6 separate regions of the Homo sapiens genome follow, and all the other regions are reported to be linked to region 3. Evidence: microRNA targets listed by miRTarBase, many of them from high-throughput screens and not tested one by one. Region 3 holds a microRNA gene; each other region holds the end of a gene's coding sequence.

Region 1 (4,074 bases), not on the chromosome of region 3:
GATATTTCCCAGTCCTGTCAGAGGTGTCCTTGCAGGGAGTCTGGCTCTTTTCTCCCTTTCCCTGGCCTTCATTGATCTGTCCAATTTTCCCTGGCAGAGCTCTCTTTACGAGAAAAGGAAGATCCTGGCTGGTCAGCATGAGGATGCCCGGGAGCTGAAGGAGAACCTGGATCGCAGGGAGCGAGTAGTGCTGGGCATCTTGGCCAATTACCTTTCAGAGGAGCAGCTCCAGGACTACCAGCACTTCGTGAAAATGAAGTCCACGCTCCTCATTGAGCAACGGAAGCTGGATGACAAGATCAAGCTGGGCCAGGAGCAGGTCAAGTGTCTGCTGGAGAGCCTGCCCTCAGATTTCATTCCCAAGGCTGGGGCCCTGGCTCTGCCCCCAAACCTCACGAGTGAGCCCATTCCTGCTGGGGGCTGTACTTTCAGTGGTATTTTCCCAACATTAACCTCTCCACTTTAACCTCTTCTAAAATACCCAACCAAAAGATCACTGTTTCTCTCAACACTATTTAATCTGAAAAATGTTTCAGTACAAACCACTGTTTGAACTATCTGGGTTATTGGTGTTTGTTCCTGATGAAAGGAAAAAAATTCTCTCCAGGAGGAAGCCTTTTTCCTTCTTGCCCTTCCTGATTGATCTTCTGAGAGCTCGAATGCTGCTGGACACGTACCCCTTTCTATTATTACTTTGTAGTAGAAAGAAAGTTAATGAAACTGAGAACTGATTGGAGGGTGTTTGATCATTTAGTTTTTAACAGGCTGAGGCAACATGGATCAGTGTGTGTCCCCCTCAGGAATGTATCCACAGTGGCCTTCCTTGCTGGTGGGCAGTGTATCCTGATGGCAGGGTACAAGTACCATTAATGAAGGGTCTGCAACATAAAGCCTTAAAAAGACACACACTAAGAAAACTGTAAAACCTTGAACATTGTTATTTATATTTTTTAAAATGGAAAAGATCACTATGTTTGTTGTGCTAACCACTTATTTGATTCTGTTTTGTGGTGGACATAGATGATTACGTTTGAGCTTTGTATTTTGTGAAAACCTTAATGAAATGAATTCCAAAGATAGTCACGTTGAGCGTGAAGACTTTTTTTCTTACATTCCTGTCTTATTTTTACCAACACGAGCAGGCATTCTGCGCTTCCACTGGACTGAGTATGGGGGAGTCCTGCTCCCCTCCTGTCTCACACCTTCCCCAGGAGGAAGGCCTCATGCACTGCGGTTATTGCATCATTTCCTAGTGCTTCATGTCATTATCACTGGTGGGGAAACAAAGCTAAATTTTATTAACAAAGACAACTCTCAGACCTATATAATAGGAGGAGGACGTCCAGAATCCAACAAAATTCAAACGGAGCCCATGCTGTTCTCCTGAACAAGATTTGGGCTAAATACGGCCTGTTTATTGAGGCTGTTTTAATGATGCTTTAAAAAAAAAAAATGTTTTCTAAAATGTCAAACCTGTTGACCACACTTTGATTAAAAACTGCCTCCTTAACCTCTGAAGACTGATTTTGCTTTATCATGTTTCAATAATAACATTTCAGAGGTTACTCTGTAGCCCCAGTTGTAAGCTTATAAAAACAAACTGGAAGGCTGAGGAGGTTATGGGCTGGCAGCCAGGCTATGTTTACAGCTGCTGGAGATGGCAGTAGCCTTATACTTTGAGCAGGTAGTACATCCCAGGCTGTGCTAGAGGTAGATTTGTTTTTTCACGTTTGATCTGTGGCTGGTGGCCACCTTTGTTGATTTGGGCTTACGAGTTTCATAGTAGCCAGTCTTAGAAAATTGGGGGAGTAAAATTTTGAAGTAAAAAAAAAAAAAAAATGACAAGGGAACCAAATGCTCCTTCTCCCCTTAGTACATTTTCATTACTTAATGAAGTTTTATCTCCTATGTAAGAATATCAAAATTGTAGTTTGGGTCTCCAGTAGAGATGTCTTTTGATTAACTTATAAACAACTGGCCACCCAGAAGTTTCCTTTGCATAGTCAACCAAAGCTATGGCTTTGTTCTTTGGAGCTTATATACTGCATGACTCCATTGATACAAATAAGACAGCACCTTGGTTTCCCAGGGATGTTTTCATTCAGAGGTCCTGTCTCCCAGGAAAGCAGTAGAACCAGTGACAGCATTCAACAGCCACACTGCATGGTCATCAGTCTTAGGCCAACATGGGAGCCTGAAATTAACTCCATCAGTAACTACCTGTGTGTCTTGCTGATACTGAATGAGCCCTCACAAGCCAAGCCAGGTGGAAGACAGCCAGCAAACGTCTACAGTTATTCTTAGTGAAATTCCTCAGAGGAATCCAGGGGGCTCCCAGTTCCCAACACTCTTCGAGATGACCATTTTTCGGGATTTGACTGGGGAACATTTTACATATTCAGTCTTTCTCAAAAATTTTTATTTATTTTCTTGAGAAAGGGTCTTACTATGTTGCCCAGGCTGGAGTGCAGAGTGGTGCGATAACAGCTCATTGCAGTCTGAACCTCTGAGGCTCAAGCCATCCTCCCATCTCAGCCTCCCAAGTAGCTGGGACCACAGGTGTGCACCACTATGCTTGGCTAATTTTTTGATTTTTTATAGAGACGGGGGTCTCGCTATGTTGCCCAGGCTGGTTTCAAACTCCTGGGCTCAAGGGATCCTTCCGCTTTGGTCCCAGAAGTGCTGGGATTACAGGCATGAGCCACTTCACCCAGCCACTTTTCTAATTTATAGACATAAAAGTAATTGACTCCCACAGCACAGTAACAGGCAATGCTGCTTGGCATGCCACAAACATCTGAAAGCTTGTGACACTCCTAGGATTGTGTCCATTCTTTCATTATGTGGAAACTTTGTTCTGTTATGTGAAATGGGTAAGGCACCAAGTGAGACTTTGAAATCTAATTTTTAGGTGGATGTGATATTTATTGTAATAGGACTTGACCTCTGTACTTTAAAGAAATCACTAACCAAATTTTCAAAGTTTCCTTTTAAATGCGTTTAGCTAGAAATCTATGTATTTATCCCTTTCCTATTTTGCATTCTTCTCCCACTATTTTTAAAAACTCATTTACAGTAGAAACCATTCTTCTTTCTCCCAACAGTATCCTTTGCCAAGACCATGAGAACAGTAAGGAGCATGTTGTTGGTCAGGGTTTCAGAATACGCGTGATGTCACTGAGAATGTTTGCTCACAGTCAATAATTGTCTTTGTGGATGTGATAATTTTGGAGATACACTTCTGGTCAGAACTCAGGTGAGATAATCTTGCAATACTCCAAATGCAGATACTCCAGCCACCCGCAAGGTTCCAGGAAAGGACAATGTCCTGCGAGAAAATCAGGAGGCCTCCACTTCCTGGGCCACTTGAGAAGTTCCTGGGCATGTCACTACATGTTGGTTGACTCAGCCATTTCTCATGCTGTTTTGTTTCTTGCGGTGGCCACTTAACCCCAAAGAATGAAGGGAGGATCCACAGTGAAAGTGCCTGAGTTTCTCTATGAGACCAGATGCTGTCGAAACCAAACATCTTTTCCTTTGCTCTATGGGAACATTTTAGGGTTTGTTTTGCACAGCTGGTTTCCAGACTAGAAGATTAACAAGTTTGGGTCCACCCCTAAGAATCAGTGGCTGTCTTTTAAGGTGAGGAGTGTGGGCTTAACTGAGGTCCTTTGAGGGAGCTATAAAGGAGAAACAACCTGGGACATCCCAGTTTTCCTATTCCTCCACTGTTAATATCTCATCTAAAATAATTCATGAGTTTAAATGGTAAATATATGCTTTAAGCTCTACCTTTAAACTTGTATGTTATTCAGGCATCTCTTATTAAGATACTGGGTCTCTGGATACCCAAGGAAATGTTGGCTTTTTATTCTTATGTGGTTCCAAATTTACTTCTCTTCAGTTTAATTGTCCATGGTAGTGCTGGCTTCATTGTTAGGTTGGAGTTATTATTTTCCTTTTAGAACAACATGAATTTTATTCACCTTACTATTAGAAAAAGGAATAACTACAGCCAGAAATAACTTCATTTCCTACAAGGTATAAAAAGTGGTCAAGTGAATGTGAAGGGGC
Region 2 (4,089 bases), not on the chromosome of region 3:
CTCCAGACCCCATGCTCAGTGCTTGACTCTAGTTTTTCTCTCTAGACATGGCCAAACGTGTAGCCAACCTGCTGCGCGTGGTGCTGAGTCTGCATCATCCTCCTGATAGAACCTCCGACTCAACACCAGACCCTCAGCGAGTCCCTTTGCGCCTCTTGGCTCCCCACATTGGCCGGCTTCCCATGCCTGAGGACTATGCCATGGACGAACTGCGCAGCCTTACCCAGTCCTATCTGCGAGAACTGGCTGTTGGGAGCCTGTGAGCCCCAGGCACTTTGCATCACAGTCACATGCCCATTCACACCACACAGAGGTTCCCTGCCTTGTTTGGATTGGCACTGTTTGCCATTCTCTGGGTTGGCTGTGGCATCTACCCTCCCTCCCTGCTGCCAGAAGCAGCATCCTCCACTTGTTCAGGGCTTTTCTTAATACTGAACGTAGCATAAGGGCTTCTGGAACCCAGAAGAGGAGACAGTTTACCATCCTCAAGATCATTCAGTGTTTTTCCTTTAAAAAAATGGTCAATAAAGCTCCTTTGGCAGAATCCCCCAAAGAACCAGGGTATTCTTTTTCCATCCCTAGCCATTCTGGATCTTGTGACCCTCCATGCCAACCAGCTTCCCTACTCCTACCCTGGCCCTTTTATACTAGGACTCCTTAGGAGGAGTGAGACAGGTGATAATGGATCCTTAACAGATGAACTATCCACAGAAGGAAGAGGGATCCGTCTCTTAAGTAATTGGTTAGTTAACACTGAATTTTGGAGGCAAAGGAGGGTTGGCCTGAGTTAGGAAACAAAATGGGATCTTTCTGACACACTTAGGGCAGAAGTGAATGCCTGTCACGGAGGGATTGATCTTCAGGGCTGTTTTTGTTCCTGCCTTTAGAGTTCCATGAACACCATACCTTTGCTACTACTATGTGCAGGAACCCTTGGTCACATGTGACATGTCTGTGGGAAGCTCCCAGAGTTTGGTTTGGTCCCTGGTTTTCAGTCTTGCTGAGACTCTGTCTGGATTTGCCTGCAGAGTTTGGATAAAAAATGGCAGGTTGGGTAACCCTCCCTGTTCATCCCATGTTAGCTCCAAAGCATTTCCCACCCTCCATCTACCCCTTCCAGAAGCAAAAACAAACCATGACTGAGGCAGGCATGGAGTTGGGCGTTAGGGGCAGGCAGAGGGCCTTTGCTACACTGCTGACAGCTATAGGGAGCCCCAGGTAATGGCATGAGATAGCTGGTGTTAGGGCTATCTCAGGCAATATGGCCACACCTGGGTCTTTATGCATGAAGATAATGTAAAGGTTTTTATTAAAAAATATATATATGTATAAATAAATGATCTAGATATTTTCCTCTTTTTCTGAAGCTACTTTCTTAAAAAATAAATAAAATGTTTATAGCATTCCTGGTATTGGCTTTCCCTTTGTATTTTTGAGCCTTCTTACCCTGAGGATCTTTATGGTGGCCTTGTTTGATTTAGCCTGTTTTTGAATTTGCCTTCTAAATGGAGACAGGCCATGGGCTAAAGAGAACAATTGGGTGCTAAACTGAAAGATAGATTAGCCCAAAGGCTAGATTTATAAGGGGAAATTTAGGGGCAAGGGAGTTGATTATTGATTAATACTGATTGCTGTACATATATTTATGCACATAGATTCCCGGGTCTCAAATTGCCCAATAGAATATACCATTCAAAGCCTCCTCGCTCTTCTACTATAGTGGTTTTGTTTTTAAACCCTGAGTGACGCTTCACCTTTCTAAATCAGATTCCCTTTTGTAAAGGGGATAATGATTGCTGATGTTACTTCACACAGGGCTATTTTCAAGAGGAATCAATTGAGTAGCATGAGTACTATTCCAGATCTTATTTTGATCTGTCAAGCTGAAGATGTGAGCAAATTCCAATTAAGATTAGACCAAAGACTTCTGAGACTTTCAGGAATTCAGGGATGAGAAAGCAGAGTGGGTCAGCTCTGTTGTCTGGAACTTCCATTTAACTTAGATGCCTCAGGATAGGGGTTACTCAGCTGGAATCCCCTCCACTACTGACTCACTATGTGAACCTGAGTGAGTCACAAAACATAGTTGGACTTCCAGCAAAGAACACCTGACCTGGTTTCCTTACCAGAGGAATGTTTCAGAAAGTGAGTATGCTATAGAAATGGTTAGCTCTTAGCAGTGTTCGGAATTGTGGGCCAGGAGTGGTGGCTCACACCTGTAATCCCAGCACTTTGGGAGACCAAGGTGGGAGGATCGTTTGAGGCCAGGAGTTCAAGACCACCCCAGGCTACATGACAAGACTCTGTCTCTAAAAAAAAATAAAATTAGTTGGGCATGGTGGTGTGTGTGCATAGTCCCAGCTACTCAAGAGGCCTAAGCAAGAGGATCGCTTGAGCCTAGGAGCTGAAGGCTGCAGCGAGCCATGATTGTGCCACTGCACTCCAGCCTGGGCAACAGAGCAAGAAAAAAAAGGTTCTCAATCAAAGGTTTATCATAGAAGCCATGTTGTGCATAAAAGAGAATATCAACTTCCAGTTCAAGATAAGGGTGATGAACAATCTCTTCTTTTTTTTTTTTTTTTTTGAGACAGAGTCTCGCTCTGTCCCCCAGGCTGGAGTGCAGTGGGGCACGATCTGCAAGCTCCACCTCCCGGGTTCATGCCATTCTCCTTCCTCAGCCTCCCAAGTAGCTAGGACCACAGGCACCCGCCACCATGCCCGACTAATTTTTTTTTGTATTTTCAGTAGAGACGGGGTTTCACCGTGTTAGCCAGGATGGTCTCGATCTCCTGACCTCGTGATAAGCCTGCCTTGGCCTCCCAAAGTGCTGGGATTACAGACGTGAGCCACCGCGCCAGGCCTGAACAATCTCTTCCACATCCCAAAATCCCGTTGAAATAGTAAAAAATGTTTTAATTTCAAAAAAAATTCTCAAAAACATAAAACAGGAACCAGTTACCTCAACATTCGATAGATCTGTGGAATCTACAACATTCAAATAACTTATTTTCTCAACAGAACCCAAAGTTAACAGAGGTCTGGAGAATTAAATATTGGAATAATTAAGCAAAGGCCTGCAGAGTATCTGCTCTTTTTAGATGTTTCATCTTTAGCTCAGTTTTGTTAATTTGTATTTCCAGAAAATTGTTCCAGATTTTTTGTTATTCAAATAACCAGTCCTTAGACGTATTAATCAATTTTACTGGAGTTCTGTATAATCTTAATTTCTGCTTTAAATGTTCATTTCTTAGGCTTTCCTAAGGATTTGTTAAACCTTGTATTGGTTGGGCACGATGGCTCACGCCTGTAATCCCAGCACCTCGGGAGGCTGAGGAGGGAGAATCCCTTGAGCCCAGGAGTTTAAGACCAGCCTAGGCAACATAGGGAGACCTTGTCTCTTAAAAAATGAACAAAAATTAGCTGGGTGGTGTGCACCTTTAGTTCCAGCTATTCAGGAGGCTGAGGTGGCAGGATGGCTGTAGGGTATTTTGGTAGTTGTTCTTTAACAAGTTAAGGACAGTTCCCCTCTACTAGCTTGAATAAGTGAATGTTGGATTTCAATTTGAAATGATGTGAAACGCTTGTGTGTTAGGAAGGTGGTTGGAGATAAGCAGAGTACCTGGGAGAGGGGACGGGTGGAGAAAGTGCAGGGAATCACTGGCATATCCACGATGCCCAAAGTCATGGCTATGGATGTGATTGCCAGGGAAGTATGTGCTGCTGTTGGTCAGGCAACTGGTCAGCTTGAACAAAAATAATCAAAACTCTGTGCATGATAAATACCTGTGACCTGAGGATAGCCTGGCTACCTTACTGGGACCACAGTGTAAATATTGTTGATGACCTGCTGTACCTTAGGCACCGTGCTAGACAGTGCCTTGCACTATCAGGTTATCTCATTTAAATCCTTGCAGTTTTCAAGATGAGTACTGTTAATCCCATTACCAGATTGAGAGAACAGAAACCCAGAGAGTTTAAATATCTTACCCAAGTGAGAGCGCTCATAAGACAGGGCCGAAAGTGACTGAATGCTTGCCCTCTTCTCCCACACTGCCCACAGTGTTTGGGCAAGGTGAAAAAACAGGCTCA
Region 3 (4,089 bases):
TACTAGAGACGGGGTTTCACCATGTTGGCCAGGCTGGTGTCAAACTCCTGACCTCGTGAGCCACCATGCCTAGTCTAAGATGCCTTCTCTTTGGGTTCGTTTGTTCTGTCCTGTGCAGCAGCTCTAATGTTGTACTTAGTCTCTCATGTTTATATTTGCATTTGTTGCCAGTGATTTCAGTGTTCCATCCAAAAAAAGAGATTGTTAAGCCATTTTATTGTCTATGCGTATTTTCCCCCTAATTTTTCCTTTTCTTTTTGCGACCTGTGTGCACAGTGTCAAGTTTCCCCCAAATATATGCTTATCCCATGTTTTTTCCTTGGAGTGTTTTGCTTTCAGGATTGAATTTAACTGTTCGATTTATTTTTTGTAGATTTTTGTGTATTGGGCAGCATAGGGGTGCTATTTCAATCTTTTGCACATGACTACCCAGTTTTCTCAACTGGTGTGCCTTGGTGTGCTTTTGAAAAATGTGTGCCCTAAATATAATTTTGGGTTGATTACTTGGCTCCCTCATTTTGTCCATTCGGTTGTCTTTCTATATTTATGCCAGTCAGTGATTGCCTGGATGACTGTAGGTTTTGTTTTATCTATCTATCTATCTATCTATCTATCTATCTATCTATCTATCTATCTATCTATAATATATCCTAATCCTATTATTATTATTATTTGAGACAGGTTATTGCTCTGTCACCCAGGCTGGAGTTCAGCAGTGCGATCTTGGCTCATTGCAGCCTTGAACCTCCCGGGCTCAAGTGATCCTCCCTCCTCAACCTCCCAAGTAGCTGGGACTACAGGTGCGCATCCCCATGCCCCACTAATTTTTTTGTACTTTCTGTAGAGGTAGGGTTTTGCCATGCTGCCCAGGCTTCTCTCGAACTCCCAGGCTCAAGTGATCTGCCTGCCTTAGCCTCCCAAAGTGCTGTGATTACAGGCGGGAGCCACTGTGCCCAGGGCAACCCTGTTTTTTTTTTTTTTTTTTTAAATCAACTTTTATTTTGATTAAATTGCAGCTTAGTTACATGTGAACCTTTGATGACACTGAGGCTTGTGGCCACTGACCCCGTCACCCAGGCAGTGAGCAAAGTGCCCGTCAGGTGGTTCTTCCGCCCACACTCCCTTTCTGCCTCCTTTTTTCCATCTGATAGTCCCCAGTGTCTATTGTTTCCATCTTTATGTTCGAGTGTATTCACTGTTTAGCTCCCACTCATAAGTGAGAACATGCAGTATTTGGTTTTCTGTTCTTGCCTTGGTTTGCTAAACATAATAATCCCCAGGTCTATCCATGCTGCTTAGGACATGATTGTGTGTTTTACTTATGGCTGCGTAGTATTTTTTGGTGTGTATGCGCCACATTAAAAAATCAAATCCACTGTTGCTGGTCATCTAGGATGCTTCCACATCTTTGTTCTTGTGAATGGCACGACCATGAATGCACGAGAGCATGTGTCTTTTTGATAGAAGGATTTATTGTCTTTTGGGTAGATACTAAGTAGTGGAATTGCTGGGTCTGATGGTAGTTCTGTTTTAAGTTCTTTGAGAATCTCTACACTGCTTTCCACAGTGTGAACCTGTTTTCACGTTCCCCAAGGTAGGAGCGTTCCCTTTCCTTTCCTGCCTCGCCAGCATGTTGTTTTGCTTTTGGAAAAATGGCCATTCTGACCAGCGTGAGATGGTATCTCATTGTGTTTGTGAGTTGCATTTCACTGATGATTAGTGAGGTAGTGCATTTTTTCATGTCAGTTGGTCACTTGAACGTCTTCTTTTTCTTTATTTTTATTTTTTATTTTTTGAGACAGTGTCTCACTCTGTTGCCCAGACTGGAGTGCAGTGGCGTGATCTTGGCTCACTGCAACCTCCGCCTCCCAGGTTCAAGTGATTCTTCTGCCTCAGCCTCCTGAGTAGCTGGGATTACAGGTGCCTGCCACTATGCCTAGCTAATTTTTGTGTATTTTAGTAGAGACGGGGTTTCACCATGTTGGCCAGGCTGGTCTTGAAGTCCTGACCTCGTGATTTGCCCGCCTCGGCCTCTCAAAGTGCTGGGATTAAAGGCATGAGCCACCATGCCTGACCAATTTTTTGTATTTTTAGTAGAGATAGAGTTTCACTGGTCTCGAACTCCTGATCTCAGGTGATCTGCCCACCTCAGCTTCCCAGAGTGCTGGGATTATAGGCATAAGCCACAGTGCCCAGCCCCTTGACAACTGTTTTGTAAGGAACCATTGCCTGAAGTAGAATTGCTGGATCAAGACTACTTTTCCAAAAGAGGATAATAAACATGATCTCCTCTTTTGTTAATGACTTAGATCATTCCTCTGAAAAGCCATTATTGCACATTGCTGAAATGTTCGCCTCTGCACTGGTTGGTCCCAGAATGCTAATCATTTTGAGATTTGTGCCTTCTTTCTTCTATTTTCTGCTTTCTTCTATTAGCCATGCCCGACCTGAAAGCCATCCCTTCCTCTTTAATGTACTATTTTTCTTCTAATGTGGATCTACAAAAACAGAGTTTGGGCAGAGTCTAACAACAGGAACAAGAGAAGAAACAGATCCAAAGAGAGGGGCTTTGGGCCCAGAGATGTTCTAGAGTCAGTTCTCAGTGGTGAAGGCTGACTGTGCATCTCTCTTCCTAACTTCACTTGCAGCCGTGTCGTATTGATAGCTTGAAATCTGCCACAGTGGGAGCATTTACACCATGGAAATTGGCAAACGCTGCAAATCAAGAGTGTTAATTTTCGTTTTGTTTTTTGAGAGTTGGCTATTAACTTACCAGCATACTATTGGCTTTAGTGCATGGCGTCTATATATTGGTATTTGTTGCTGGGCCGTTATTTAGACTGCCTTCTTATTTCTTAACTGTGTTCCAGGTGGGTAAAGGCAGCATAGCACTGAGTTCTAGATAACTGAGGGGATTTTGCACTTGGATTTGCTGTGCTAAGGTTTGGGTGGGGCTATTACATCTTGCCGGGCTGGGCAAGAGTGAACCCTAGGGGTCAACATCAGTAGCCAGGATTCTGCCATAGGAAGCTTGGAGTGGAACTGACCTGCCCCCTTTCTCTCTGACTCCATGGCAGCTGGGTGAGCTATGAACAGGCCAACTGCAAGGGCGAGCAGTTTGTGTTTGAGAAGGGCGAGTACGCCCACTGGGACTGGTGGACCAGCAGCCAGAGGACAGACTCAGCAGCCTGAGGCCCATCAAAGTGGTGAGCCCCCTGCCATCATCCTACTTTCTCTCTCTGCCACCTTGGAGCAGGAGGTCCTGGGACCAGGAAGGAGCCCGCCCCTCTAGCATTGTGCCCCTTCTGATTGGTGAGGAACCTCCTCACTGGGTGACCTTGCAAAAGTCATTTTACTTCCCTGAGCCTCAGTTTCTTCATCTGTAAAATGGGCATATTGGTATCTACTGTCCTGAGGTTCCAATGTGCTTATTAGCTTGAGGGTTGTCACACTGCAACTCCAGAAGGCTCCAATCACAAGACTATGAAATGCTCCAGAGGGCACTATTCACATTCTATTTTAGGTGGTTGGTGCCCGCCCCCCGCGCCCAAGGGTTGGGCAACTCCCGTCATTGCTCAATAACCAATAGCCATCAGAAATACTACAAGAAATTATGAGTTTGGGGCTGGAGGAGAAGGTGGTTTAGCTCTTCTTCAAGACTCGTGCCAGTGTGAGTTTTCAGTGCTTCTGAGATCCTGATTCTTACTAGTGTGTGAGAGTGTCAACTCTCAGGAAGGGGACAGGGCCCATCACTGCTCAGTTACACTCTCAAACCCTCCAAGCCCAGTCTAGCTCCTCCCAGGACCTACTGGAAGGTTGGAGAACACTGGACTTTGCACCCCACAGACCTGGGTTCCCAAGTTGGCTGTGCTGCTCCCAGCTGTGTGGCCTTGAGCACGTCATTTGACCTCTCTGTGCCGCACTTTCCTCATCTGCTAAATGGCATAAGAGGATTTTATGTCTGAGGGATAAGGGTTTTATGTGTAAAGGATGAGATGAGATAACTAAGGAAAATGTCATAGGGACAGGAGGATGGGAAGAGATGTAGAAATGAAGAAAAATCAAAGTATCTCAGGTGCCTATTAGAGG
Region 4 (4,089 bases), not on the chromosome of region 3:
AAAGATTAGAAATTCTACACCAGAAATGCAACAATAAATAGGACAAATTTCAAGAAGCATTTGTCACTTAGCCTTTTATCTTAAAATTCTAAGCACAAGTTTTCTTGTAATTAAGAACCAATGGTAATTAATATACCAATTTGTTAGCAAAATAGAAATATAGTATACATACTCTTTCAAGTTAATCAACTTTAAACTAGCAATGCTGACTAGTGTAAGAGCACTCTAAAAAAGAAATCACTCAAAAGGTAAAGCTTTATAATTTAGAAAAAATATTTTTCCTCTTAAAAAAGTCCTTCCAAATAGATTTAAATTAAGGGCTCCACTCTAGCATATATGAGTGACTGAAAATTAGGTGAGAGAGTACATAGAGAAAGGGTATCTACAGTCATTCCCTAAAGTTTCCCACATGAATCTGTGCAGCTCCCATGATAAAGGAAGATGTTTTACTCACACTGATCAAGCATAGACGAATTAAATTTTTATCATCTTGGGTATACTATTTTCTTCTCTTGCCCATGATCCTGACTATATTCAGTAAAATTTCAGTGTAAAAAAATCCATCTTTATAGGAAATTTTTCTGGAGGAGATGGGAGAAGGCTGGGAGAAAAAATGTATATACGATACAAATATTACCTTTTGTAAAGTTCTTTGCAACAGTGTTGTAAATTGCATTTCAGACACTTCAAAATAATAAACATACAAAATACAGTACTTTCTTAGTTTTCTGGCAGAGGGACAAAAGATTTCATGCCTGTCAGAGGACATGGGCTCAGATTTTAGGCTCAAAATACAGTGAATTGGCAATAATAGTGGATTACAGGTAAGAGAGAAACTAAAGATCTAAATCCATTAGGTTTCACGTGCAGATGGAATTCTGAAAGGCTAACAACAATGCCCACTGGAAACAATCTGTAGTATCTATACTCTGAACCAGTGCAAAAAAAAAAAAAATCAAAATGCAATTTTCATGAGTTACAAAGTGCAAAGCTCCCCTGAATCCAATGTTACTGATAAACTCAGTTTTGATAGCTTTATAGTACTTTTTAATACCTTAAAGTGTAATCAATAAAAGTTTTGTAAAACAATTTCCCACGTTTCAGTGATTTAACTGATTTAAAATGATCAAAGTCCTAACTTCCTTTGTTACTATCACCTTAATTTTAAAAGGAAAGTTATACTGGTGATACATTAGCAAAAGTTTTAAAATATCATCTTGCATTTTCCTGATTCATTTTAGTAAATGAAAATGGGCATCTAGCCAATATGATTCTTCAATAAACACAATCTATTTGCAAATAATTTAAATATGTTAAGCTATTCACAATTATATAAAAGTTCAACTTTATTTCTAATATTCAAGTTGGACTCATTTAGGCAATTTCACTTCATTTTCATTATGATTTTTTTTTCTTTTGAGACGGAGTTTTGGTTTTGTTGCCCAGGCTGGAGTGCAATGGTGCAGTCTTGGCTCACTGTAACTTCCGCCTCCTAGGTTCAAGCAATCCTGCCTCAGCCTCCCGAGTAGCTGGGATTAGAGGTGCCCACTACCACGCCCAGCTAATTTTTGTATTTTTAGTAGAGACGGGGTTTCACCACGTTGGCCAGGCTGGTCTCAAACTCCTGAGCTCCGGTGATATACCTGTCTCAGCCTCCCAAAGTGCTAGGATTACAGGCATGAGCCACCGCGTCCAGCCTTTTATCATGATGAATTTTAAAAGATATGCTTTAAAACTGAAAATTACAAAACTTTCCTTCTGAAATTAAGGCTGTATTCTTTGCCCTTTTAAACTATGGAGGTGCCTGTTCCTCCTACTATCCATGGTAAAGATGCAGACACAACTTTCCTTTAAAACTGCTTATTGCACTAAAAGATAGCAAAAACAAGTTGTCAGTTCTTAAAATAAACATGATTATATTTCTATAAAAGATGCTGCCAATACAATTCTATAATTATTAAAGCACTATTCTAATAAATATAAAAGAAAAGGAAGCTATACTTCCAAACACATACATATGTGTTTATATACACACACATACATATATATATATAAAAAATATATGAAAATCACATTAAGGTATGAGAGGCAGCAAGTAAACTATCAAAAAACAAAACAAAAAAATCCCTCAACAAACTCTTCTCTCTACTCAATTTCAGAGGTCTCAACCCTACAGAGCTCTAATCTTTTAAAATATTTACCCTTTATAAAACCTTTAAAGAATTTCCATGTATAACCCATAGAAACAGAAGGCTTCAGAATACACATCACTTACCAGAGAGAAAGTTACAACTTCTGACAGGTTTTATATTTATAGCAGCTTTAACAAACTCACTAAAGAAAAAGAATAGTAGGCCGGGTGCGGTGGCTCATGCCTGTAATCCCAGCACTTTGGGAGGTCGAGGCGGGTGGATCACAAGGTCAAGAGATCGAGACCATCCTGGCCAACACGGTGAAACCCCGTCTCTACTAAAAATACAAAAATTAGCTGGGTGTGGTGGCACATGCCTGTAAACCCAGCTACTCGGGAGGCTGAGGCAGGAGAATTGCTTGAACCCGAGAGGCGGAAGTTGCAGTGAGCCGAGATCTCGCCACTGCACTCCAGCCTGGTGACAGAGCGAGGCTCTGTCTCATTAAAAAAAAAAAAGAAAGAAAAGAAAAAGAAAAAAGAAAAAGAATAGTTCAGGTTGCTACTGCTTATATACAAATTGCGCAAATGGTAAATGTATGTTCTGAGTGGGAGGGGAGAGACGCACTCTCACAGAAAGTTATTTTATGTATATATATGTGTGTGTCTGTGTCTGTGTATGTATGTATACATATATATATAAAATTTTGTTTCTTAAGACAGCAATATCAAGAGTTGAGAACTCAGAATTGTGTATGAGATAGGAGTCAGGAGTAGGGTATGCAAAATAAAAGTAGAATTCTAGTTTGCCATATTTTATATTCAAACGAACCAGATACATCAACATTTGAATGTCACTGGTAGGACTGGGAAAAAAATGTAGGTGATGAAGGCAAGGGAAATAGAGAAATAAAGGCGGTAGTGGGGGTAGAATAAAAGGGAAAGAAAATTCCCCAATGGAATGAACTCTAAAATATATAACAGACACATATATATCTATTATCAATCCAGATCTAGATATATATGCATATGAAGTATGGATGTATATATTTTAAAAATACACAGACACCTTTTACAAGAATATATGAATGCACATTAATTTTTTGCACACATAATTCTGAAAAATCACTTTGATTATTCATGAAGGTGTGTATTTTTTAAACCATCATTTACTTTTTCTTTACTTTTTTTTGCAAAGATAGTTGTGCTGCCAAGCAACTTGAGGTAAAGGCATTAAAAGGGTTAGACTACAAGAAATGAAAACAAAACAATTGCGATACTTCCTATAGGAGACCGCACAAAAAGCAGTTGGCTGGTTTCATATTGCATAATGATGCTGTGTTCCTTGATGAAGTAAACAATCTTCCTTGTATTAACATAAGGATCAGACCTTGGCCCCCACACAGTGTTGGTTTCTGTATGGCTGGAGGTGTCCTTACTCAATTGACTTCACTGGAAACATACGTTGTATGTCAATTCATCTTTCAGTACTTCCTCTCAGAGAATATACTTGGACTATTTAAGCGAAGTACATTGTGCGTAAGGTATCTTGGTGAATCTGTACAGCCTTGGCAAGAGCTTGTGGATCTCGCCCATTGCTTTGTCCTGAAACGTGACTTCCTTCAGCACTGTAAGAGAAGTGGCAATGAACACAAAAACAAACTTTCTATTCTGATGTAATAATTCCGAAAAATACTATTTGTTGTAGAAAATTTCAAAATTATTAACAAATAAGAGACTGGTGTAACAATCTATGTGTCCATCACTCAGCTTCAATCACTATTAACTCAAGGCCAATTTTGTTTTACTTCTCTCACCTCCCCAGAATTAATTAGAAGCAAACCTAGATATCGTATCATTTTGTCTATCTGTCTGAATGTATCACTTTATTACCAATAATCTCTCCTTTGAATTAATGTAGTAAAACAACTAAGTTACTACATGATTCTATTACTAATGAG
Region 5 (4,089 bases), not on the chromosome of region 3:
TTCATTGTCCACAAGGTGAGAGACCAGGAGGAGGAGGAGGAAGAGGAGGCGGCGGCAGCGGAGATGGCAGTGGAGGTGGCAGAGCCAGAGGAGGGCTCCGGGGAGGAGGTGCCCATGGAGACTAGAGAGAATGGACTGGAAGAATGTGCCGGTGAGCCTTTGTCAGCTGACCCAGAGGCGAGGAGATTGCTGGGCCCGGCCCCTGAGGACGATGGTGGCCACAATGATCACAGTCAACCACAGGCCTCTCAGGACCAGGACAGCCACACACTGTCCCCTCAGGTGTGACCGGAGACTTTGCAGTGTGCATGGTCAGGGGTGGTGCCGAAGTGTCTTCCACCTGCCCTGCGGACCGTGGAAAATAAAAGGCTCTGCCCCCAGTGTGAGTGTGACCGGTTGTACCCTGGAGTAGTGTCTGCCCTGAGCTGCCAGTGCTGGGTATCCCCCAGCCCCAGGAAATGTGGGGTCGGCCAGGACCCTCACAGCTCTGAATTTGCTTCTGTTATTTATGGCTTTTCGCTGCTTCTTGGTGCCCCATCTCTTGTCTGTGTCCTTCCAACCCCAAGCTGCTTATGTGGCCCAACCCCACTGCTGTCAACTAGGCTTGAACCCCACAGCGGCTGTGCTCTTCTGGGAGGTTCCCGCTTGCTGCCTTCAGCCAGGGCGCTCCTCAGAGCTCTATTTTCCTGCAGACACCAGCTCTCCTTCCTGCCTTTAGATCCTGAGAAGGAGGGAAATGAGGGGTGCTGACACAGTCCCTCTGGGAGAGCTCTGCCTAGTCTGGTTTGGCGAGGGCCCTTGATCACCTTGCCCCTCCTCCCTGTCTTCTCTGATTCTTTTCCCTCAAAATAGTCCTGAGAACTAATTGTCACACTGGCTCATCATGTCTCTGTGGGTGGGGTGGGAGAAACCTCTGCTGCACACCTCTGTTTGGAACCTGGGCAGAGCAGGAGGTAAGGCAAAGGCAGGCAGGCACCAAGAACCAGACCCCTTGAGAAGGCGCTGTGGGTGGGTCTTTGTTCTGCTGTTCTGCCTTTCCTGACAGGTGGGGTTGGGGCACACAGACATTGGAATATTTGTACTGCTCTCGTGCCATTTGAGAGGCTGCTGCCCCAGGCAGGCCAGCCCCTACTCCTCTTGGCTACACTCATGTTGCTCAGACTATATTTCAAATAAAAAATCTTCTCACCATGCAGGTAGGCTCTTGTATTCCTCTCCAAGTGAGCCTGGCCCCACCCTATTCCACCCAAGGGTCTTTCCCAGACTTCCCCTGTTTGTCCCATCTCTGAGGGAGAACAATACTTCCTACTGTCTAAGGAAGGCCTTCTCTAGATTCTGGAGCTTGTGGTTAGGAAACCGGGAGCCCTGTACTACTTAGTTCTCTAGAGACCTTCTGAAGGGGTGAGGGGAGCGGCTCCACAATGGTCAAGTCACCTCCAAGATCTCCAGGCTAGTGACATTGGCTTTAGGGCGTATCGAAATTTTCTAGGCACCTTCATCTTTCCTTCAGTTGATTTTCAACATAAGAGAACCCCTTACTGGTAAAAAGGGAAAAGGGGGTGGAGAAGAGGAATTTTATAATTTTCTTATAGCATTCAAGAGGTTTCTTATTTCTTACAGCATCGCTACTGCCACAGAGAACTCAAATGTGGCAGAACTGGGATTAGACTTGGGAGACTGGCTGTCTTTTCACTGATGGTGGAGTCAGGGCCCACCCAAGCACGAGGAGCAGGCTGTGTGGAGGTGTCGTCTGACCTCTAACCCAGGTGGCATGGGGTTGCGCCCAGCAGGATGTAGTGGAGTAAAGGGAAGAGGGTGCTGGCCGGGTGCTTAGAGGTCATCTTTCAAGGAGGCATTAAATATCAATTATAAATTATTAAGTCAGATAAATATGCCTGACCTTTTCACAGTTGAAAAAATACATTTTTTCCCCTCTATCAAATGCCAAGTTTTTAGTGGAAATGCTAATGGCAGTGGGAAAGGTTGCCTCACTTTCAGAGAGACTCTCGCTGTCTGCACCCTTTTAATAATTGCTCTTCCTGGCAAGGCTGCCACTTCCCTGCCTCCCCAGCTGGCAGTGGGGCAACCCAGGCCTGTTTCCAGCTACCTGCAAAGCCAGACCTAGACCTGCCGTAGCTGTTGTCCCATGCCTAATTCTAGTTACAGGAAGCCATCCCTGTACCCTGGGTCCATTCACAGGAATGGGTTCCAGAGGAGGCTGATAGAAGGGTTTGAAATGACTGGCTGGATCCCTTCCTGCTCAGACACAGTGGTAGCTGGAGAGCAGGCAGAGATGGTAGAATTGCAGGTTTGACCACCTGTCGTGACCCCAGATATACATCTCCTTCCTGGGAAGAACGTGAGTTGGAAAAATGCTGAGCCAGTCCCTGGAAAACCTGGGTCCTGGCCTGGATTCTGTCCTTAGCCAGCTCTTAACAAATCCCTTAACCTCACTGTCTCCTCTCCTTCACAATAGAGTTAGTAATTCCCATCCAACTGGCTTCACAGGCTTTTGTGAGCTTATGAATGTGAAAGTATTTTCTAGTTTATAAAACACTATATGAATGTGGGGAAATCTTTACTTGACCTTAGGGCATGGAGGGTGGAGCACATTTTGTCTGCTGTTTGGACTTGGATGCTGATTAGCAGTTATGAAGTGGCCCAGACACCTAGCCATTCTTTAGTAAGAGTGAAGATAGCATTTTAAGCCCTCCTTGTGTGCCTAGCATCTTACTGAACACTTTCTGGTGATTCTCTCCTTTAATCCTCACAAAGATCTCACAGTTGTCCTCCATTTTACGGAGAAGAAACCGAGGCTCCGAGAGGTTAAACGATGTGCAGAGGCTACCTGTAGTGATGGTGCTGAGTCAAGCCTGTCAACCACTGTGCTCGTTAGTGACCAAGGCTGCTTTGACAGGCTGCCAGCTTGTCAGTGGTTTGCAGCCCCCCAGACATTTGCTTTCCTACTTCCCATGCAGTTGGGGTGCCCTGCCAAGTGCCAGGTTCTCTTTGGAGTCCATCTGTGCCTTGTCACCCCAAGGAGGGCCTCGAGCATCACACCGTTGACATTTCGAAACGTGGTATCTCTACAACCTTTCATTCTCATTGGGATTTACCTTGCCATTTGAACACCATCATTTTTTGAGGACTGTCTAGAAAAGGTTGCCTAACCCTCACAGGGAACACACAGTTCCCTCAGAGTCCAGCATCTTCTGGTCTTTTCTTTTTCAAGATTTTTTTAAATGGTTGTGCTATCATTTGTCATCATCAGAAAATGCTTGCTGTAACAAGCGTTTATCTGCACATTATGCTGCAGTGAATGCTCTACTGATCAAGTTAAACAGATAAGATCCCTTCCCTTGTAGAAACTACAACTTAATACAGTCTAAGACTTGACAAATTACTTAGTATTTATTTTCCAACTGCTTTATCTCTGTAAAATGATATGCTGAATTATTATAAGCTAATTGTTGTAGAAAGAACTTTCCCCTTAACTTATGTAAACAGTCTGGTTTTAAAAAATTTGATAATTGTGGCCCAGTAAGCTCAACACTTTGCCTTCCCCAAGACTGGGGAACCTCTGTCCTGTTCACCACTGTATATTCAGCACCAGGCAGTTTCTTTTTTTGTTTGTTTGTTTTTTTGTTTTGAAAAATTAATACATATACATGGTAAGACATTCCACAATACAAAAGGGTATACAATAAATGGTAAGCTTCCCCATGGAGGTCAGCCTCTAGTCCCCTCTCCAGAGTTAATCACTGTTATCTATATGTTGTGTATCCTTTCATAGCAATTCTATGCATTTACAAGTTTATAAATATGTATATTTATATATCTATTTTTAATACAAATAGTAGAATTCTATACACAGTGTTCTGAAGCTTGCTTTCTTATATAGTATTTTGGAGATTATTCCAAATTCATACATTGGGTCAGAGTAATTCTTTAAAAGTTCCTTGCATATAACAGTGATTCAAAAAGTATATGGATGAATGAGTGAATGCTGCATGAATGAATGAATCTGATTCAATTGGTAGCTACAGCTGTTCTCTCAGGGTCTGATCTGACCAAGACAGCACCTTCTAG
Region 6 (4,072 bases), not on the chromosome of region 3:
GTACATTAGTGGGACTTGAGGTTTGCCTGGGATTCAGTAGACTGCTCAGAGCAGGGGCTAGCAAACCTTTTTTATTATTGAGAATTGCCATATATAGGGAGGGCCTAGGGTTTTTTATTTTTATGATTCAGAGATTTGGGGGGTAGCTTAATGAAGTTGCAAATGAAGAATTAGGTCATTTTTGAGAAAGGGCCTAAAGAGAATGTTTTCAGATGTTTCAAATCCAGTAACTGAACCTGGAGATTTATTACAGTGCTCTTGTGCTGAGACAACAGCTCACCTTTAAGTACATGGTTTCACGTAAGTTAGCAAAGTGCTGGCTCCTAACTGCCTTTCCTGTCTGGATCCTAGGTGGAATGGACCCACATGGCTTTCCTTGGCTTTGACTTTCTCCTGTCTTACTATCGACTTCTCTCTCATGGGCCCTTTTCCCTTCATTCCTAGGATGCTGCAGGACATATTGAACGACATGCTGAAGATGACAGCAAAATTGATTCATGAAGTTTTTTGCCTCCCACGTTGGGAAGTCATTAGTTGAACTATTTTCACATTGGCCCCCCACACAGGCCACTCTCTTCCCTTTCTTGGTGAAGTAAGGAAGGAGAAAGTGGTTACTAGCCAGGCATACCCCTAGCATAAGTCTGGGCAGCTCTATGGGATGATAAATTACACTTTTAAGTTCTTGCTGGAGGTTTTAAATAGATTTAGACAAATGTTAAGGAACCATACTTCTCTGGGACAGCATGGCATATAGTGATATATGCTATTTGCGTTCTCCAGATGTTTATTGAAGATACAGATCCTAATTGGTTACCCAGTTTGACCCTAATCATATGTATATTTTATTGATTTCAGTTTGCAATTTTTAATTTATGTTCTTATGATGGTTTAAACCTATAGTCAGGCTTTTAAGTACAAGTTTGTTTAAGTGCCAGACTTTGAGGATCAGTTTTAATTTCTCCATTTGTAATAGCTGGGTATTTAAACTGGAAGCAAATAGTTTTCTTTCTTAACAATTATGTGCAGTGTGTGTCACTGTTTTCTTGCTTTATAGATAGAGCTGGCTTTAAGTGCTAAAGGACACAGTAGATTTTTGACAAACAGTGGCTGCTCTGCTGACTATCTTTTAGGAATTCAGGAAGCAAATCACATAGTGACAAGTCCTTACAGACACCACTTCTAGTAAATCTCTGTAAATGTGGATAGAAAGCTCAGTGTGAGGCAGTGCGTAGACCTAACGTCTACCTTTACATCTGCTGTTGAACCTGGGCACTACCTGTTACAGATCCTGTCAGGCTGTTGAACTGGAGGTGTACCTTTATCTTCCTTTCTAGTGTCTGACCCTGCAAGCCTAATGTTGGTTTGAACCCTTTTGGTTTGTTCAGTTGCCAGCCTCCATCTCTCCCACTGTATGGCCGTGCCTAGACCGATGGCAGCCATCGAATATTCCTCTGGGCTCACGGGGTGTTTTCCACCCCCCTGCAGCAACTAAGATGGTGGGGGAGAGGGGGTTAGAATAAAGCATCTGAATACAGTTTTCAGGACCTCAAGCAGACTTCCTAGAGACTTGTTTCTGAGACAGTTCTTTGCCTTCACTTCCCTGCTAGCTGGGAAAGAAGAGTGGAGCAGAGACTCTGCCTGGCCACTGAGAACAGCCAAATTCACAAACCCTCAGTGGGGCTTTGTTTTTGGATTTTCTCCGGACTCATCAGTAAACCTGTAGAAGTGTCGCTTTCCAGCCTTTTGTTTCTGGATCCTCAAAACTCAGAACGTGGCCGGGCGTGGTGGCTCACGCCTGTAATCCCAGCACTTTGGGAGGCTGAGGCAGGCAGATCACCTGAGGCTAGGAGTTGCAGACCAGCCTGGCCAACATGGCAAAACCCCGTCTCTACTAAAAATACAAAAAGCCGGGCGTGGTGGGCGCCTGTAATCCCAGCTGCTCAGGAGGCTGAGGCAGGAGAATCGCTTGAACCCGGGAGGCAGAGATTGCAGTAAGCTGAGATCGTGCCACTGCACTCCAGCCTGGTGACAGAGTGAGACTCCGTCTCAAAAAAAAAAAAAAAAACTCAGCTTCTTCAGAGAGATAAAATTGGGGGAGGAGCCCAGGGCCACATACCAAGCTTTGGGACATGGTGCCTCATGCTCTCTGGGATTGCAGACCATCCAGGTCTGTCTTCGCCCCTGTTAGTGCACATATATCCACTCACATGTCTTCCCTCAGGCTATCGGGCAGGGGGACTTCACCAGGGGGTTTATGGATAGGCTTCAAGAGGGTCTGTGAGCCCCCAGAAATTGTGTGTGAGACTGAGTATGTGTTCTTTTTTCCAGGAAAGGCTCCAGTGGTTCTTACTTGATCCAAAAAATGTCAAGAATTAATCTAGGAGGCCGGGCCTGGTGGCTCACACCTGTAATCCCAGCTCTTTGGGAGGCCGAGGCGGGTGGATCACTCAAGGTCAGGCATTTGAGACCAGCCTGGCCAACATAGTGAAACCCCGTCTCTATTAAAAATACAAAAATTAGCTGGGTGTGGTGGTATGTGCCTGTAGTCTCAGCTACTCAGGAGGCTGAGACAGGAGAATCACTTGAACCCTGGAGGTAGAAGTTGCAGTGAGCCAAGATCATACTACTGCACTCCAGCCTGGGCGACAAGAGTGAAACTCCACCTCAAAAAAAAAAAAAAAAGAGTTAATCTAGGAGATAATGAATGGCCTAGTACTAGATAATATATGGCCCCACAAGCTCTTGACTTCTGTCCTTGGGGAAAGCCATTTTGTTAACCACACTAGTGAGATTTACATGATGCTTAATGGAGAACAGAGAAGATCTTGTTGCAAAAGGTGTATTAAATATTTGTGCTGTTTCTGTATGAGATTGAGAAGCTTTTCCCACCTCTCACCCCTATTTCCTATAAGGATATCCAGAGAAGCCAAACTGTTCTGTGGGTTTGGGAATGGTCATTTCCCGGGAAAATGCATCTGGATCGATGACTAAACCTGGCCCTTTTCTCTGGGCTGTAGTGAAGCCGCATTTTCACGCTGGCTGGCAGTGTGCTGAGAGCCTCGAATGCTCTGCGGCGTAGTGCCCTTCTGCCCTGCCTGACGATGTATCGAAAAGATGAGAGTGAAGGAGACTTTGTGCAGCAGGAAACGGGTAGGTGAGGTGTTGGGCAGTTGTGGGAACTTCTGAGAGTATTACAGAGTGGTAGAATCGGTAAGAACTCTGATTTGGACTTCGCTTTGGTGGAACTGTGTGCCTATACCTGCCTGTGTGTGTGCAAGTGTGCAGGTTCCTTTGTATGTATGTGTACGTGTGGGAACCTGTGTTTGTCATATTTTTCTTCATTTCACAAAGGCTTTTTTTGAAGCAGTGGCAGTATGCCTTTGTTTCAAGAACACATGAAATTCTTTTAACACCAGATTAGTGTGTTACCCCAAATGAACGGTTCTAGCCCTCTATTAAGAAATAAAGGGACCATAAGCATTTTGGCTGCTTATGGCTGTGTGTTACTACTTACAAGAGTCTTGAAAATTATACAGAACTTTGCCTTCTTTTTTTAATGTCTTCCACAATGTTGTGACTGATTATAACCCTGTTTCCCCTCAGAGAAGAGCTATGGCTCAGGGATCTGTGTTGACTCTGGCATTTAGTGGCTTTGTGAAGGAAAGAAACCATTAAATGACCTGACAAAAACTGACTCATGTCTTTAAAGTAGTTGAAGCCACTTTTAGAATGTTACTCTCGGTTGCTTTTGTCTAATTCTAATGGCTTAAAGCCAAGAAAACCATAGTATAAATCTTTTTGTGTACCTATGCTAGTGTTTAAATGGCAGTTCGTTGTGATAAAGTATCAGTCACTTCAAGTTTTCTGTGAAAGTTTTTAATTAGGTTAAAAATAATTTTGGCATACGTCTCTACTCAGTTTATAAAGCAGTTCCACACCATGCAAACAAAACTCTAACAGCAAAGGTTATCTTGACCTGATGTTACTTGAATCTGAGAGAAAGTCATTACTTACTACTGCACTCCTGCTTTTGTGGGAAAAATTTTCTTCTTCCCCAGAAGAGTTAACAGTT

What was found. Region 3 holds the annotated microRNA hsa-miR-6817-5p (UCUGCCAUAGGAAGCUUGGAGUGG, at 3,017-3,040, shown strand). A microRNA usually pairs through its seed, bases 2 to 8, with sites in the 3' UTR of a target mRNA and lowers its output. Matches are read on the target gene's strand: a 7mer-m8 pairs with bases 2 to 8, a 7mer-A1 pairs with bases 2 to 7 and ends in A, and an 8mer does both.
Region 1: the mRNA of SHROOM3 is a reported target of hsa-miR-6817-5p. Seed matches in the 3' UTR shown: 7mer-m8 at 847-853 and 7mer-m8 at 1,658-1,664.
Region 2: the mRNA of NUP98 is a reported target of hsa-miR-6817-5p. Seed matches in the 3' UTR shown: 7mer-A1 at 537-543 and 7mer-m8 at 1,043-1,049.
Region 4: miRTarBase lists AGO3 as a target of hsa-miR-6817-5p. The part of its 3' UTR that is shown has no 7-base or 8-base seed match.
Region 5: the mRNA of ZNF592 is a reported target of hsa-miR-6817-5p. Seed matches in the 3' UTR shown: 7mer-A1 at 1,650-1,656 and 7mer-m8 at 1,968-1,974.
Region 6: the mRNA of ZNF106 is a reported target of hsa-miR-6817-5p. Seed matches in the 3' UTR shown: 7mer-m8 at 1,430-1,436 and 7mer-m8 at 3,823-3,829.

Annotation. Positions count from the first base shown.
Region 1 is chr4:76,778,712-76,782,785 of GRCh38, forward strand. It overlaps SHROOM3 (shroom family member 3), which reads left to right. Exons shown (of 11, transcript NM_020859.4): 11 at 98-4,074. The coding sequence ends at 466. All of the region lies in intron 1 of SHROOM3-AS1 (SHROOM3 antisense RNA 1), which reads right to left. Among named protein-coding and RNA genes, the nearest start is that of SHROOM3-AS1, 22 kb to the right of the region's middle. RefSeq lists enhancers at 2,792-3,991, 3,031-3,990, 3,122-3,491, 3,225-3,519.
Region 2 is chr11:3,672,333-3,676,421 of GRCh38, reverse strand. It overlaps NUP98 (nucleoporin 98 and 96 precursor), which reads left to right. Exons shown (of 33, transcript NM_016320.5): 33 at 46-1,403. The coding sequence ends at 263. Among named protein-coding and RNA genes, the nearest start is that of CHRNA10, 3.0 kb to the right of the region's middle.
Region 3 is chr22:25,452,635-25,456,723 of GRCh38, forward strand. It overlaps MIR6817 (microRNA 6817), which reads left to right and starts at 3,012; the gene lies at 3,012-3,077. It also overlaps the pseudogene CRYBB2P1. RefSeq lists an enhancer at 3,079-3,182.
Region 4 is chr1:36,055,304-36,059,392 of GRCh38, reverse strand. AGO3 (argonaute RISC catalytic component 3) reads right to left here. Exons shown (of 19, transcript NM_024852.4): 19 at 1-3,756. The coding sequence ends at 3,648. Among named protein-coding and RNA genes, the nearest start is that of TEKT2, 27 kb to the left of the region's middle.
Region 5 is chr15:84,802,106-84,806,194 of GRCh38, forward strand. ZNF592 (zinc finger protein 592) reads left to right here. Exons shown (of 11, transcript NM_014630.3): 11 at 1-4,089. The coding sequence ends at 288. Among named protein-coding and RNA genes, the nearest start is that of ALPK3, 13 kb to the right of the region's middle. RefSeq lists enhancers at 1,537-2,038, 2,039-2,538.
Region 6 is chr15:42,413,733-42,417,804 of GRCh38, reverse strand. ZNF106 (zinc finger protein 106) reads left to right here. Exons shown (of 22, transcript NM_001366845.3): 22 at 445-4,072. The coding sequence ends at 501. Among named protein-coding and RNA genes, the nearest start is that of CAPN3, 56 kb to the right of the region's middle.